Linked DNA regions of Homo sapiens: region 1 is linked to region 2. The links come from fine-mapping of genetic effects on gene expression. A gene starts in region 2. The other region holds a variant in brackets. All regions are shown on one strand. Distances are between the middles of the regions.

Region 1 (3,014 bases), 200 kb before region 2:
ATCTTTCCCTGGATTTCACACACACATGCTGGAAGAGAGAAGCTCTGTCTTTCCTCTGGGGTTACTTGCTACATAGAGGAAGTCATCCATCAAAGAGAGAATGAGACCAATCTACAGAGAGAAGCAGGACTGAGGGAAGGAGTTAGAGAGCCCTAATGACTTTGAGTCTTTGGAGCCAATCATGCTCAAGGCGAACTCCAACCCTGCCACAAAGAGCTAATGAATCCCCTTTTTTTCATTAATATTAGTTTTGAGTTGAGCATCTGACACTTGTAATCCAAAGAGCCCTTATTAGTCCACAGCTGACTATACCAACTTTGACTATCTTCCACACCTGACACTTCTCCAGGGAATGTGTGATCTTACTATGGATGGAACCCCTAATGATTCTGATCTCCAACAGTGTACTCACACAATGTTACTACAGTGACCACCAAAGTAAGAATAGCTAACATCTTCCAATCAAAATCTTATCAAAAGCACTGTGCTAAGTGCTTTGTATGCATTGTTTCCTTTACTCACCACAAAAGCCCTACACAGCATTATTTATTTCCACTTCCCTACTTTTAATTTGAAGAACCTAAGGTTTGGAGAACTTGAGAAATTGTTCATGGTTCCACCACCAGTAGGTGTTGGAGAGAATGTTTAAAGCCAGGCAGTCTGACTCTCTGGAACATGTGCCGTTGACCTTACATTGTTATTACTTCCTTCCTAGACTTAACCTCTCAAGAACAGCACAGCCAAGAAGGGTCAATCTGAATTCCAAGGTGCTATTTATCTACTAGTTGGGCAGCCAGTATTATGAGATAGTGAATGATGCTGAGGGCACATTTTGCACTAGGATTATAGAGCGAACCCTTTCAACAATGCAAAAAGATAGAAATGAGTGTTCTAGTTTAACTTTCTAGATTAAGAAACTGGGATGGTTAAGTGACATGCTCATGGTTACGCTGCCCCAAGTGCTAAAGTTGGGAAAGGCTCCCGGAAATGTGTGACTTCATCCCCAAGAGGACTGAAAAGAAAGTGTTCTGACCTTGAAAGGTATACAGAAATCAAAGGATTCAGGTCGATGGGGTGAAAGGTTTGTTTTAGTAAAAAATGTCTTATCCTTGTTTGATCGGTTATTTTATTCTAGGGAGGAGGCCTTGTCTAGTTTTCCTTTTTATGGAAAGGTCAGCCGGTGGGTCAGGAAGCTGGGGAATGTGTGCCTTGTCATGAATTCAGGCTTCCTGATTCATGGGGTGAAATTTCGCTTTCTTATTGCCTCTCGGAGAAGGATGAGCTCATTGGTGGTGACAAGAGCAGCCTTCTGTCCTTCCTGCTCCAAATGCTGAAAGAAGTGGGATGTGAGCT[G/C]TCAAATGTCACAGAAGCCTACAAAACGCTGACTCCCGGATGCCAGGCATAACTGGGGTTGGCTCAGAACATGGGGACAGGGCAATACCATCATCTGCTAAGAATTCATTGTTCTGTAGCTTGCCCTGGACACAATGGCAAGACTGAGACAGGAGGAATAGATGTGGGGCGGGGTGGGGGCAGACAAACTGGGTGTGTCTTTGCAAACATAGCCTTTTTGGGGGTGGGGAGAGATAGGATCAATCAAGAGGCAGACTGTATGTGGGTTTAGGGCACCAAGAAACAGGGACATGAAAAATCCTGACAAAACAAGGCAAAGCATAACAAAACAAATGCCCAAACAAAGAAAGGGAGGGGGAGCATTTGTTTGGAAAGGTTTTGACATTTACTGCTTTAAAAAAAGCATTGAAACAGTCATAGGAAAATTCATAACTTTGTTTAGTATTTTGAATCACAAAGGGTGGGTGATTCAAATGACTTTGTAGAGACAAGGTGCTATTTAGATGAGAAGTTCTCTGGATTGGATGGTCCCAGACTCTCCTGTGGGCAGAAGGGCAGCTGACAGCCTGATTGGGTATACTTTGAGTGACGCTGAGCAGACCCCGACTCCAAAAAACACTGGAAGGAAGAGTTCCAGAGTTAGGAATTGAGGTGGGATTGGAGGTTATTTTATTTACTTCTTTGTTCTTTGCATGTTTTCCAAATTTTGTGTGTATGTGTGTATACACACACACACATACACATATGTTTTTTGAGACAGGATCTTGCTCTGTTACCCAGGCTAGAGTGCAGTGGCACAATCACTACTCACTGCAGCCTTGACTTCCTGGGCTCAAGCAATCCTTTTCCTACCTCAGCCTCCTGAGTAGCTGGGACTGCAGGTATGTGCTATCACACCTGGCTAATTTTTTATTTTACATAGAGACTGGGTCTTGCTTATTTTACATAGAGGCTGGTCTTGAACTCCTGGGGTCAAGCAATCTTCCCGCTTCAGCATCCCAAAGTGCTGGGATCACAGGCATGAGCCACTATACCTGGCCTTGCACACATATTTTTAAAACCTTAATTGTATTAATGTAAAATTATACAATTAACATGTTATTACAGTCCTTTTATACAAAATTACTATTCCATGGTAAGAGTAAACTGTCCCCCTGACCATCACTTCTTTCCTATATATTCACATTCATATATAGAAACACATGAATGAGAATCAGATTGCTTTGTGTGAATGGCTTAAAAAAAACCCAGAAATGACATTGGACTGTACATTTCTTTTTTATTTTATTTTTTTTATTATATACTTTAAGTTTTAGGGTACATGTGCACAATGTGCAGGTTAGTTACATATGTATACATGTGACATGCTGGTGCGCTGCACCCACTAACTCGTCATCTAGCATTAGGTATATCTCCCAATGCTATCCCTCCCCCCTCCCCCCACCCCATAACAGTCCCCAGAGTGTGATGTTCCCCTTCCTGTGTCCATGTGTTCTCATTGTTCAATTCCCATCTATGAGTGAGAATATGCAGTGTTTGGTTTTTTGTTCTTGTGATAGTTTACTGAGAATGATGATTTCCAATTTCATCCATGTCCCTACAAAGGACATGAACTTATCATTTTTTATGGCTGCATAGTATTCCATGGTATATATGTGCCA
Region 2 (2,500 bases):
CCTCCCCTTCTGCTGCGGTTTTTAATCAGCGTTTCTAGGGCAGGCTTGCAGGCGGGGCCGCGAACCCCCTGTAGTTGTACACGGAGCTGGGTGAGGCTGCGGCTCTGGGCATTTCTGGGGAGGAGTTCCATGGCTTTCCACAGACTCTAACCACCCTGCAGCGAGCCGCATGCTATACGGGTTAAACTCGGGGCATATCGAACGAACAATTCACTTCACGGAAGACTAGCAATAACCAGGACACCTGCGCTATTGATCAGCTATCTCAACACCAGAGAGACCCACCAGCACAAGGGGCAAGAATTGGCCAGGAGGCGCGCGGCGCTGCGCCCTCACCGCGTCCAGACAGACCCTTGAACTTCACCGCCAAAAAACGCACCGCTCCGCAGACCCGACCCGGGAGAGGGGTTTAACTTCCCCTCACCTTTCCCATCCCTCCTTCATTTCCAAGGACATACTCAAAGGAAACTGGCAACACTCGGTCTAGGGTTTCGCTCCTGCCCTCGGCGGACACCGAAACCACTTCTCCCAGGGAAGTTAATTAAAGGAACCATTAATCCGCCCAAAAATCCAAAACCTACCCCCAAAGCTCAAGAGCTCTGAAAAGAGATCGAGGGCGCCTCTGCCGATCTTGAACATCTCTGCTCGTCGCTGGGGCTTAGAGGTGGGCAGGGGGTGCCAAAGGGGCGCAGGCAAGACCCGGCCAGAGGGTTAGACGCCGGCCCCCGTTCCGAGGCGGCCCAGTCTACACGCCAGCGACGCCGGCTGAGCCGGGCTTGGAGGCAGCCAGGTAAGCAGGTAGGTGTAGGCATGTGTCTGAGCAGACACACAGCTGCGGCGGATTAAAGTTCAAGCCCGTTCACACTCCGCTTCCCCTTCCCAGGTGTTCTCACGCACGGCCCAGGCAGCCACTTTCCCGGGGAAGCCTCGGCGCTCGACCGGACAGTCCCCTCTTTGTCATTCTTAATGACTCCCCTTGCCTCCCAGGCGCCAACCCATTGAGACTACTCGCTTCTCTCCACTCTCCCAGGCGGGCGCAGAAACCCCCGGAAAGGGGAACTCGGCGGGGACCGGGGGAAGCAGGGTGTCGCGCGGCGCAGGGGGCGCCGCAGCCGGCGTACGTACCCAGAGCGAACAGGGCGAGCTGTCCAGCCGAGGGGACCATTTTACGGGCGGGCGGGCAGCAGGCTCTCCAGCCTCCTGCCCTACCTGCGGTGCCCGAGTGGCGGAGCGGCGCCGCGGTGCGGGGGAAAAAGACGCAGACTAGGCAGGGCCTGCCCCCGGCGCGGGAGGGCGGAGGGAGGACCGAGCGCCTCTCTGCTGGCACTCGCCCCGCAGCGCTGCCCGCCGGGCGGAAATAGGAAGGCGGCTACCGTCACCTCCTCGCCACTCGGCGACCGGGGCACAGCTGACCCCCCCCTCCCGCCCCGATGGGGGTGCCCCCCTGAGGGCACAGAGGGTGGGGGTTTGGGGTAAGGGGCGGGGACGCTGAGCGCACCGAGCAGGGCGCGGGCTGCTGGGCGGGGCGACCTGGGATCCCAGAGCCTGGCGGCGCGAGCCGGGCACCCGGGCCGACGAAAAGGCAGGAAGCGCCTGACTTCAGACACCACCCCCGACTGCCAGCGCCGTGCGGCAGCGGACTCCAGCGTGCGGGGTCGGCGCCGGCCGCGTAGCCGGATTGTCCTGGGCCGCAGTGGCGGCTTCCAGGCTCTAGGCGGCGGAGCGGAGCCGCCCGGGCACCCGTTACCTACACCGAGGGGCCGCTCCTGGGGCATCTCTGGGGCGGGGAAGGCTGGAGGCTGGGGACGCAGCCAGGAAAGGGACCTGTGAGTTTCGCCGGCCGCTTGCCAAGACTTGGCTCAAGGAAAGTGGTCCCCTGAATCAATGAAGAATTTGTTAAACCAGGTTTCCCACCTGTGCCACAGTTCCCATCAATTCTGGCAACGCCTGCCGCCTTACCTCCCAGGCAGGCCACATCGTTAAGATCAGTCTTCGTACTTCTGGCCTGGGACTGATAAAAAATGGGTCTCTGTGACGAATCTGGTTATATGGCACCACCAGCTGAGGCCAAAAGCCTGCTAGCCTGCCACCAAGTGTACCCCGAAAGAGGGGTGTGTGGGCCCGAGTCACCTGGGTGGTCCTTTCAGGATTTGTGGCTCTGAGGTGGCCCCTGGTGCTGGAATTTGGGGAGGTGGAGGGGATAGAGGGAAGACATTCTGGGCGAAGAGTGGAAGATCCATAGGTTCCTCGGTGACCCTCATGGGGACAGTACACCCGGGAGATTCATGTTCTCCAGGTACCCGGAGCTCACGGACTGACCCTCTTCTCCTGCCTCCTCTGGCCTACGTGCTCCGGGTAGATCCACTTTCCTTGAAGGTGGGGGTGGGGGCTGTTGGGCCTGGGGAATCTTTTGCTGTTTACTTGGGGAGGCTCAGGCTCTCACGGTTGACCTCTGCCCAGTTTGTTTCATGTAAGTAGAGCAACCTAGTTTCAAGAAGGA

Direction of the effects. Positions count from the first base shown, and alleles are read on the strand shown. Sizes are in standard deviations (SD) of each study's normalised expression.
As copies of C replace G in region 1, the expression in tibial nerve of the gene that starts at base 1,224 in region 2 goes up (small effect, 0.26 SD a copy in GTEx).

The links. PIP is the estimated chance that this variant, and not a neighbour inherited with it, causes the effect.
Region 1: its variant is fine-mapped to the expression of TGFA in tibial nerve (GTEx, PIP above 0.99).

What each region holds. Positions count from the first base shown.
Region 1 is chr2:70,356,548-70,359,561 of GRCh38, forward strand. No RefSeq gene overlaps it. Among named protein-coding and RNA genes, the nearest start is that of FAM136A, 56 kb to the left of the region's middle. The variant G/C (reference allele first, on the strand shown) is at 1,354.
Region 2 is chr2:70,552,603-70,555,102 of GRCh38, forward strand. TGFA (transforming growth factor alpha) reads right to left here and starts at 1,224. Exons shown (of 6, transcript NM_003236.4): 1 at 1,126-1,224. The coding sequence starts at 1,165. It overlaps LOC124907824 (a long non-coding RNA gene), which reads left to right and starts at 106. Exons shown (of 2, transcript XR_007086906.1): 1 at 106-790. RefSeq lists a silencer at 1,285-1,354.